Linked DNA regions of Homo sapiens: all the other regions are linked to region 1. The links come from fine-mapping of genetic effects on gene expression. A gene starts in region 1. Each other region holds a variant in brackets. All regions are shown on one strand. Distances are between the middles of the regions. Region 1 holds the start of TAX1BP1 (Tax1 binding protein 1). Region 2 has its middle 93 kb from the start of TSL. Region 3 overlaps HIBADH (3-hydroxyisobutyrate dehydrogenase). Region 4 overlaps LOC105375211 (a long non-coding RNA gene).

Evidence for each region. PIP is the estimated chance that this variant, and not a neighbour inherited with it, causes the effect. A credible set is the group of variants that fine-mapping cannot tell apart.
Region 2: its variant is the best candidate, but not a certain one, in a credible set for the expression of TAX1BP1 in whole blood (INTERVAL, PIP 0.53).
Region 3: its variant is the best candidate, but not a certain one, in a credible set for the expression of TAX1BP1 in whole blood (INTERVAL, PIP 0.57).
Region 4: its variant is the best candidate, but not a certain one, in a credible set for the expression of TAX1BP1 in monocytes (Quach 2016, PIP 0.68).

What each region holds. Positions count from the first base shown.
Region 1 is chr7:27,738,896-27,741,604 of GRCh38, forward strand. TAX1BP1 (Tax1 binding protein 1) reads left to right here and starts at 1,267. Exons shown (of 17, transcript NM_006024.7): 1 at 1,267-1,374. TAX1BP1-AS1 (TAX1BP1 antisense RNA 1) reads right to left here and starts at 1,780. Exons shown (of 2, transcript NR_187572.1): 1 at 1,121-1,780. RefSeq lists enhancers at 1,202-2,064, 1,281-1,550, 2,065-2,709 and a silencer at 1,718-1,950.
Region 2 is chr7:27,521,456-27,524,164 of GRCh38, forward strand. No RefSeq gene overlaps it. Among named protein-coding and RNA genes, the nearest start is that of TSL, 93 kb to the right of the region's middle. The variant A/G (reference allele first, on the strand shown) is at 1,548.
Region 3 is chr7:27,635,338-27,637,969 of GRCh38, forward strand. The region is part of intron 2 of HIBADH (3-hydroxyisobutyrate dehydrogenase); the gene reads right to left. Among named protein-coding and RNA genes, the nearest start is that of TSL, 21 kb to the left of the region's middle. The variant G/A (reference allele first, on the strand shown) is at 1,562.
Region 4 is chr7:27,710,543-27,713,251 of GRCh38, forward strand. The region is part of intron 2 of LOC105375211 (a long non-coding RNA gene); the gene reads left to right. Among named protein-coding and RNA genes, the nearest start is that of TAX1BP1, 28 kb to the right of the region's middle. The variant GA/G (reference allele first, on the strand shown) is at 1,157.

The sequences.
Region 1 (2,709 bases):
TTACATATAAATAGGAATGTGATTTAAACAAAGAGTGACATCTCTGACAAATTGTGCTTATAAAATTCACTGCTATGTTTACATTTCTTAAGGGACACAGTTATTTCTACTACCAGAAGGTTGCTACCAGTAACGCAAGTGATAACTTATGTTGATTATTCACACCGTTTTCTTCATCCATAAAATAAGGAGACTGGGACTAAATGGCCTATTAAGGTTCTTCTGAAATTCTATGATCAAGTATAATACCCAGCACAAGACCAAGTTCAAAAATGTCAATACACAGGAAACAAATCAGTCTGTAAATATTGAGAACCTATGTTATCAAAGCTAATGTCTTCTGAAATAACTGGAAGTAAAGATGAAAGTATATGAAAGATAATTTTGAATGTTCTGTATTTAGAATGTGCTTCAACATTTAATGCGATCTAATTTACATATCCTTTCTGGTGCTATTGCAAGGTTTGTCAGGGTTTTACGGCAACAGAAGACTATGATGAATTCGAATGGGACACATTTGCTTCTGTGGAGTTACGATTCAAACTGAATGTCCAATATAGGAAGGCAACATATACAACAAGCAAAAGTGATTTTAGAAATAACAGAACGCGGGAGAAAATTCACACACGGAAAATGATACGGATAACAAAAGCAGGTAACTCACAGAAATGCGGCTAGAAAAGAGGCCTCTGCTGGAGCGAGAGCAAATAGAATCAGAGGGCATTAGAACTGAAAAGCTCCTAGGAGCTTTCAGTGAACAAAACTTCATAGCCAAAAAAGCACACGACTGGGCCAGGAGTTCAGAGACAGTCTTGGTGCTCAGGGGTTTGCAGCCCTAGCCGTGTGGTCACTCCCTTGCTTCTCTGGCTATTTCCTTATCTATAAAATGAGTGGGCTAGTTTAGGCCGACTGAGACGCAGACAGGGATACGGTACTGTCCATGGACCTCTGAGCTGCCCTTTCCACATCGCTGGTGAGTTACTTAAACCTCCTGTGTGTTTCCCCCTTTCGTATGTCAAAATAATAACATAAAATCAGAATGTAAATCCAGACGCATTGTTTTGCTGCGATTAAGTTGAACGAAAATAGCAAGGACGAAGTAAGGAGAGAGCCAGCCTACCCGCGGGATGAGGCGTCCCGCGGCGGAGTGGGCTGGGGGCGTGTCGTCGCGGAGGGGAGCGGCGAACCAGGCAGGAGGCGGAAGAGACCGCCCCGTGGGCGGAAGTGACGCAAGGCCTACTGTCGGCTGGGAGGGGAGGTGTAGCCGGTCTTTGGGGGTAGGCGGTAGTGGCGGAAGAGGTTCGGCGGCTGATGGCGGATCAGGATCGGAAGCCTGCGTAACTTTCTCCCTTGATCCGGGAGTCTTTCCACTGGGTAAGGCGCCTCCCCGGTCCACCCCAGCGCCTTGTGCGGGGCGGCCTCCAGCTGCATCTCTTTTAGGGCTCGTGCTACACCCTTCAGCCCCTGTACTGTAGGGGCCTGGCCGGTCTCGGGAGAGGTCTCTGTGGTGACGAGGCTTTCCTTCCCGAAGACAAACCTTCCTTTCCAGACTGCGATTGTGACGGGGGTGTGGGCGACTCGGATCAGCTGTGGAGTTTTGGAATGGCAACGGGTGGCCGCCCCACGCGGTGGGAGGCCCGTGGGACAGGCCTTCGCGATTTGGGGGAGGCGTGTGGGACGGGGGCCCTTTGGCTGGGGACGAGTGACGCTGGCGACCCCCGAAGGAAAAGCTTCTGGTGTCCAAGGCTAAACTCTGGGGTGACTGTTTTGAGGGCAGTGTGGGTTTTACCGGCGCAGTAAGCTGAGAAAACACGTAGGTCGCGTCCGAGAAGGACGCTGGGGTTTGCCTTTGCGGAGAGAAACCCAGCTGTTTTGGTTTGAGTCGCCGGTGGCGAAGGGGGCGGAGACTCCCTGCGCCGCCTACTTTTGAGGGCCGCGGGCGGAGTTGGCGGTTCTGGCTGATGGCCTGCTTCACCTGGAATCCATTCCCCACCCCGCCCCGTTCGCAAGGTGTGGACTAGTCCCGACCGACTTGCACTCCTGGCTTAGGGAATCTGTGGCTAGAGTTTAGCGTGCGCGCGCGCGCGTACACCTTATTAGTAAAAAATTGAGCTTAGCGTGCGTCTGTGTGGGTGTGTGTACACACCTTATTGGTAAAAGTTTTGTTAGAAAACACTGGCATTTGACTTTAGACATACACAGTGTTAGATTTCCGGTTTCACACAGTGGTTATGAATTGCTATTATGTTAGGCTTTAGATGGGAAAATAAATCTTGATTTTTCAGCTGTCTGCATTCTGCTAATGTTAAAATTTCTACGAGCTGTGCACGAACAATTAATAGTTACAAGTTTGGTGCTCAATTCCTAAAGGATTTAAAGAGATCATTTGAATAGAAACTAAAAGTGGGTCGATCGTCCTCAAAGTGCTTTTCGGGTTTAGGGAAGGAGCTTAGGACAGCCTTTCTCTTTCGTTCTGTTCCTTTCAAGGGTAAACTTGAAGGATTGTTTGATGATGCCGACTTCTAATAAGGTTTTATTTATTTTTCAAACTGATTGTTCAACTTCAAAGAACATTGTAGTTTTTGTTTTCTAGTCATCACGTTCTTTTTTTTTTTTTTTCCTTGAGATGGAGTCTTGCTCTGTCTCCCAGGCTGGAGTGCAGTGGCGCGATCGCGGCTCATTGCAACCTCCGCCTCCCAGGTTCAAGCG
Region 2 (2,709 bases), 220 kb before region 1:
AAGGTGTCGCTGCAGATACTGAAGTGCCCTAGATCAGGGGTCTCCAACCCCCGGGCTGAGGACCAGTACTGACCTGGTCCGTGGCCTGTTAGGAACTGGGTTGCGGGGCAGGTGAGTGGCCAGCCGGTGAGCAAGCATTACTGCCTAAGCTCTGCCTCCTGTCAGATCAGCAGCTGCATTACATTCTCATAGGATCCTGAACCGTATTGCGAACTGCACATGTGAGGGATCTAGGTTGTGTGCTCCTTACAAGAATCGAATGCCTGATGATCTGAGGTGGAACAGCTTCATCCCAAAACCATTCCTCCAACCACCACCCATGGAAAAACTGTCTTCCACAAAACCAGTCCCTGGTGCCAAAAATGTTGGGGACTGCTGCCCTAGATAAGAACTGGTGAGGGCCTATAATAGGCACTAGAGATTTAGAATTAGCTAAGGAGAATGGGTGGAGGAATGGAGGAGTCAGGGATGGGTCCTGAAAGCCTGGGAGGAGTCGTGGGATAGGACCAGAAGGAGAAGCAGGGCTTTGGGGGAAAATGAGGAGCTCAGGTTTTGATATGCTGAGTTCAGGTCTTGTGGAACATACACCTAGAGCAGCGTTTCTTAAACTTTGCCTGACTGGCATTTTGGGCAGGATAACTATTGTTGTGGGTGCTGTCCCGTGCATTATAAGAGGTTTAGCAACATTCTTGGCCTCTGCCCACTAAATGCCAGTAAAATGGACAACCAAAAATGTCTCCAGCCATTGCCATGTGTCCCCCCTGGCAAGCAAAACTGCCACAGTTGAGAACCACTTATCAAAAGATCTTAACTCATGATATTTTCCTTAGGCTTTTTAAAAATTGAGAGGTAATTCACTATTTACAAGTATACAACTCAGTGATTTTAAAATATATCCACAAAGTTGTGAACCACCACTATTAATTCCAGAACATTTTCATCACTCCCCCCAAAAAACTCCATATCCGTTAGCAGTCACTCCCCATTTCCCCCTCTCCAGTCCTTGGAAACCACTCATCTACTGTCTGTATGGATTTGCCTATTATCCAATACTTCAAATAAGTAGAATCATACAATATGTGGCCCTTTGCATCTGCCGCCTTTCACTTGGTATGTTTTTAAGTTCATCCATGTGGTAGCATGGATCAGTACTTTATTCCTTCGTATGGCCAAGCAATCTTCCATTGTGCAGATATGACAGTTTGTTCATCCAATCATCAGTTGGGGGATATTTGGATTGTTTCCACTTTTTAGCTATTATGAATAATGCTGCTATGAACATTTGTGTACAAGCTTTGTGTGGATATATTTTTTTCCTTATGCATCTAGGAGTGAAATTGCTGGATCATGTGCCAACACTGTTTAACCTTTTGAGGAACTACCGAGCTATTTTCCAAAGTGGCTGCACCATTTTATATTCCCAGCAGCAATGTATAAGGGTTCCAGTTTTTCCATATGCTGCTATCATGTGTGATTGTCCTTATATCTTTTGTTTTCATTTCCAGAAAGCATTTAATATTAAGCTAGATGGTTTATGACAACTTCAT[A/G]GATGAGAAAATGAATGGTCAGTAGAGGGTGGCTTGTACAGGGTCACACTCAGAGGTAATTCCTTTCCAGCACAAATATTTTGTTCGTGTTGAAAACTGTATAATTGATTACAATTCTATTCTATCCTTCACGTAAGATGCTGACGGGCTGAAATGTGATCTGATCTGTTTTTGCTGGTTCCTTTAATTTGCAGAGATTTGGCCACAGTTAAACCCCTTCCCTCTCAACTACTCGAAAGGCAGCATTTAGCAAGTAGCCTCTCTGTTGTGCCATTACTTCCCCTCGTTACTGGATCATTCCACTTCCATCCGTATAATCCCATAACATTTCCTATTTTAAAAATATAATAAAACTCCTCCTGGTCCCTTATTTGCTGCCAATGTCTATCCCATTTGTCTGTTTTCCTCTGCAGCAAAGCTCTTCAAGAATTCTCTATACTTACTGTTTCCAATTCCTCTCCCACTCTCAATCCAACTCTCATTTCCAAGACTCCACCAAAACTCTTGAAAAAGTCACCAGTGATAGCTCTTTTGCCAAATCCAAATGATTCTCAGCCCTATTACTCAACTCACAGATCATCATTCCCTCCTTAAAATACTGTTTTCATTTGGCTCCTGGGACACTGCTCCCATGTTTTTCCCCTACTTTACTGATCTCTCTGCTTCAGTCTCATTTGCTTGTCCCCCCTCATTTTCCTAACCACTAAAGTTACAGTAACACAGGGCTCAGTCCTTGGACTGTTGTTCTTCTTTACTTAGATGTCTATTAAGGCATCTCATATAAATCTCTGATTTTTTTCTCCTAAACTTCCTACAATCCTCCCCAAATCTTCCCCCCATGATCTTCCCCATATAGGAAATGGCAACTTCTTTCTTCTGCTTTCTCAGGCCACTGACAGTGGGATTATCCCTGACTCCCTACTTTCTCTCTCATGCCATCCATCAGTTAGTGGCTCTGTTTTCTAGGTTCAGAATCTAACCACTTCTTGCCTCCTCCATCATTTTAACATTCTGGTCCCAGCTACCACCTCTCAACTGGGTTATTACTATTGCCTCCGAATTGGTCTCCTTGTTTCCAGCCTTGCTCCTACAGACTCTTCTCCACACAGCATCCAGAGTGATCCCTTTAAAAAAGTAGGTCAGATCACATCAATCTGGTGAA
Region 3 (2,632 bases), 100 kb before region 1:
TCCTTCAATTACATTTGCTAATTGAATGGATAAGCAAAGACAGCATGGATCAGTGAAAGGAACACTAATTTGGGAAGCCAGAGACCCGGGTTAAGTTGCAGCTCAGCCAAGAAGTCATGGGTGATTTTGTGTAAACTATGTAACATCTCCAGCTTCAGTTTCCAAATCTATAAAATAAAAACAGTGATTTGGGTTATCTCTCAGGGTTCCTATCTCCAAAGTAAAAAGGAAACTTAGACAGATATTTTTCATATTTAGTAATCTCAAGTTCTAAGAAGGTATGGTTCCCATGAAAAGGGGCTAAGGGGACTGGAAGCATGTGCAATGATTCAGCACAATGCACAGCATTTGCAGGACTTTCACCGTGCAGGTTTTCAACACCTCCATAACTGGGGATGGTCATTGGCCTGGCTGACTCTGGGACATGGCTCTGCTCTGATTGTCAAGGCTGCCCCAGACAGATCTCCTGCTAATTCCAACGGCCTCATACTTATACTATTATGAATTAAGATAATTCTACTCTTCTATTATCTCAATTTTGACTACAGGAAATTGGTTTCTGTGTAAACCACAATATAGTCTTTAAGAATTCTTGCAGCCAATTTCTCTGAATTAGACTTTGATTTATCTGTATGCCAGTATGCATCAATGGTGGGTGTGTAATATAAAGAGCAGAGGACTGAATAAATTAAAAATCTGCTAAAATAAATTAAAAATCTGTTTAATAACAAAAAATCTGCTTTGCAGCATGAGGAGGGGGGTGAAGAGCCAAGAGTAATCTGAAGGGACTACACCCCCTTTTTACATATCCATTGGAAGAAGACAAATGTTACCTAGTTGCTTTACATGAAGAGAAAAATCTTGCTGCCTCTTCTAGATAAAACAGTCACATAAGTTAAGTTCAGCATTGCTTCCAAGTAAACCAGATGGGTAACAGAAATTTATAAAGAAACAAGAAGAATGTGATCTTGTTAAACTTGCCACTCCTGTGTTTTTTAATCTTTAACAGTACTCTTTAAAAGTACTTTTTAAATACTTTAAAAGTAGAAAAGCACAATTACTTCAAAATTAAACTACACTTGAAAAACTGACAAAAGCGCTTTGTGCCTACATCTTGAAACATTTGGTCAACAATGATGGAGCCCACTCAGCAAGAGGCTTTTAAAGCTCTCATTTAACAAGACCTGAGTGGATGCCAGATTAGATCCCAAGAGATTTACTTAAGCAAACATGTTCAGCCTTACAACTCAGGAACAACAAAATGGTTTCCAAGTTTTTAAAGAGAAAACAAAAGAAAAGAGAATCTAATTAAGCCTAGTTCAATCAGAATAAACTCACACAGAAGTGGTGCATACATCCCAGACTTTTGGCATAGATCAGCAGCATCTCCAAGGAAAATCCTAGACAATGAAAATGAAGCACAAGTCACATGTCCTTGATGCTAAGGATTAAGTTAAAAAGAAAAACCAGTATCTTCTGCAAAATAAAGGTGGGTCAGAAGGGGCAGTGCAGAGCAGACTCTTAAACAGGAATGCTGTCAAATCACTTTACCTCCTAGTTT[G/A]GTTTTAATTTGTATCTTCATTCTTTCATTTAGAAATATGTCTACATATCACTTCTTGGCCTTTTGGCTATAATCAAGAATGAAAATACATCTATTATTCTCTTTCAACATATTCTGGACTCAATAATGCAGCTGAGACAGTGGTGTTTGGGGTATGTTGGAGAATAAAGATTTTGGAGAAATATGGCATAGATACAGTAACAGCAGCAGCAGCAGTAATAGTAGTAGCAGCAGCAGTAATGGTACTTTCTATGTGCCAGGTTCTTTTGGGCTAAGAGAAAGGTACTCTTATCATCCCCATTTTATATAAGAATAAGAAATTTAAGCAGAGAAAGGTTAAGTAATCTGAAGTCACACAGCTAGCAAATGGCAGAGCTGAGATGTGAGCCCAGACAGTTTGGTTCCGGGGTTTATATTTTTAAATCACTGCATTCGCAATTTATTGATTCAAAATTTCTAAAATATTAAGATCTGATCATTATTATCAGTTACGTTTTTTAAAAAGATGCTAAAAGTTGAAATGATGCATCTGTTTCCAACAGAAACACGAATATAATAAAGGGATAAGCTATAACAAACCCACAGCCAACATCATACTGAATGGGCAAAAGGTAGAAGCACTCTTCTTGAAAACCGGAACCAGGCAAGGATGCCCTATCTCATCACTCCTATTCAACATAGTACTTAAGTCCTGGCCAGAGCAATCAGGCAAGAAATAAAAGGCATTCAAATATGAAGAGAGGAAGTCAACCTATCCCTGTGTGCAGACATGACGCTGTATCTAGAAAACCCCATAGTCTCAGCCCAAATCTCCTTAAGCTGATAAACAACTTCAGCCAAGTCCCAAGACACAAAATCAATGCGCAAAAATAACTAACATTCCTATATACCAACAACAATCAAGCCAAGAGCCCAATCAAGAACACAATCCCATTCACAATAGCCACAAAAAGAATAAAATACAGGAATACAGCTAACCAGAGAGGTGAAAGATCTCTATAACAAGAATTACAAAATACTACTCAAAGAAATCAGAGATGACACAAACATTCCATGCTCATGGATAGGAAT
Region 4 (2,709 bases), 28 kb before region 1:
CTACTTTACAATGTGTCCATTTTGTGTGTGTATGTGGGGGTACAGTTTTAATCATCAACTGAGGTAAAACTGGATTATCTGTCATTTCTGCTCATTATTTCTGCCTTGGGAACTATACGGCATATATCTTACCTTCCACACAATAGAGGCCTGCAAATATTTTAAGAAAGTAACCAATATTATTATTTCCCCAATGTGTTTCTTATTCCTGACTAGAGGTCCATTAAAATAATTTCTTGGCCAGGCATGGTGCCTCAATGCCTATAATCCCAGCACTTTCGGAGGCGAGGATGGGAGGATTGCTTAAGGCCAGGAGTTTGAGACCAGCTTGGTCAACATAGTGAGACACTGACTCTACCAAAAAAAAAAAAAAATTCCACTTTTATTCTGATAATTTCTTGTCATGTACATATAGGAATAAATTATAAACATATATGTAAATTTTGACTTTTATGGTTTTAATATTGATAAATATTTTTAACAGTGAATAAACTTTTTATTTTAGAATAGTATTAGATTGATATAAAAGTTGCAATAATATTACAGCGAGTTCTCACATACCCCACACCTAGTTTCCCCTATTATTTATGTCATTATGGTACATTTGTTACAGCTAATAAACTGATATTATTAACTAAAGTCCATACTTTATTCACATTGCCTTAGTTTTTACCTAATGTCTAAAAGTCCACTTTTCACATGACAGTTTTCTGGCCTTTATAGTCCTGGACAAAGCCCTCTTCAAATGCTCAGAAATAAACATGATTCTCCAGATGTAATCTTCCCAAAGAAGATCCCTGGTCAGAAACTAGAAAGTGAATGAAAATAAGAAAGAGAGGTTGGGGCAACCCCAAGAAAGGATACGAGGCCAGGCATGGTGGCTCTTGCCTATAATCCCAGCACTTTGGGAGGCCGAGGCAGACGGATCACCCAAGGTCAGGAGTTCAAGACCAGCCTGGCCAACACAGCGAAACCCTGTCTCTACTAAAAATACAAAAATTAGTTGGGCGTGGTGGTGGCACACCTGTAATCCCAGCTACTCTGGAGGCTAAGACAGGAGAATCGCTTGAACCCAGGAGGCAGACGTTGCAGTGAACCGAGATGGTGCCACTGCACTCCAGCCTGGGCAACAAAGCAAAGCTCTGTCTCAGAAAAG[GA/G]AAAAAAAAAAAGAAAGGATGTGAGATCAGCATCAAGGAGACTATGTCTTAAAAGCTGTGCACTGCTCATTGATGGATTCATTTAATCCTCCCAACCATTCAGGAGGTAGGTGCTGTCATTATCTTCATCCTTATAGAGACTCAGATAGGTTAATTGATCTCCCCAGGGACACAGATGTGTCTGACTCAGAAGCTCATCGCATTGCCTCCCCTTGGTATATTTCAAAGAAAGGATGCCACGTCTCTCTCTCTCTCTCTCTTTTTTTTTTTTTTTTTTTTGAGATGGAGTTTCATTCTTGTTGCCCAGGCTGGAGTGCAATGGCGCGAAGTCAGGTCACCGCAACTTCCACCTCCCAGGTTCAAGCGATTCTCCTGCCTCGGCCTCCTGAGTAGCTGGGATTACAGGCATGCGCCACCACGCCCAGCTAATTTTGTGTTTTTTAGTAGAGGCGGGGTTTCTCCATGTTGGTCAGGCTGGTCTCGAACTCCTGACCTCAGGTGATCTGCCCACTTCGGCCTCCCAAAGTGCTGGGATTACAGATATAAGCCACTGCGCCTGGCCAGTATGCCACGTCTCTTATCCATGAACCACTCATTGTTCATCCAACATTGTAACATGAAGGGCATTTAGCCATTCTCTGCTGTGAATTCATTTATTTAGCAAGTGCTTTAGCTCCTGCTATGGGGCAGAAATGACTGCACTTTGCAGAAAGGACTTTGGATAGAAACAAAGGTCAGGCTGGGGCATGTGGCCCCAGCTAGTAAATGTAAGTGTGAAATATCAACACATTAGTGTTAAAGTCAAATTTCTTGCCTTTAACCATCAGACTCCTAAGACCAATAAATGCAGGGAAACTGTGTTCAATTACGATTTGGAGTTGTTAATAAAGATAGACCATAATTAAGAAACCAGTAGTACCCAGGTCCATACGTGTGCTATTTGTACTTCTATCTTAAGAGAGTAGGACATTATTAAGATTCAAGGGTAAACAGGTGACTCTTAATGTGTATCTCAAGGTTGAGAACCACTGGTTTACTGAGTAGGTTCTACATGGGTGAGAGACTATGTAAAAGAAAGTCCTTTTTTCTTTTGATATGTATTGTCCACCTAACTGTTGATGTAAAGTAGTTGTGATATCATAAACACGTACTAATGATGTTGGCCACCATTTACTGAGCCTGTGGTGATGTGGACCAGCCTCTGCATTAAGTGCTTGGCATTCATTTTCTTATTTAACCTTCACAAAGACTCTTGTGGGAGATATCCTAATCACAATTCCACAAGGAGTGAATTGAAAATTAGAAAGATTAAGCACTTACTATTAGTAATTTCGTACTGAGCCCAGGTTTGAGCCTGGATTTGTCTGATGCCTGGCTGGCAGTGAAGAGGCTGTGGTTTACCTGGCTCAAGCATGAGCCATATGAGTCGGGGAACATGTGATGAATGGCTGGCCTCGAGGAGGTTCACCACTGGGGTTTGGAAAATAAAGATATCCTTTAAACATGAAATAGAAATGTTTAGCTAGTTCTGATGTATTAGTCCATTCTTGCA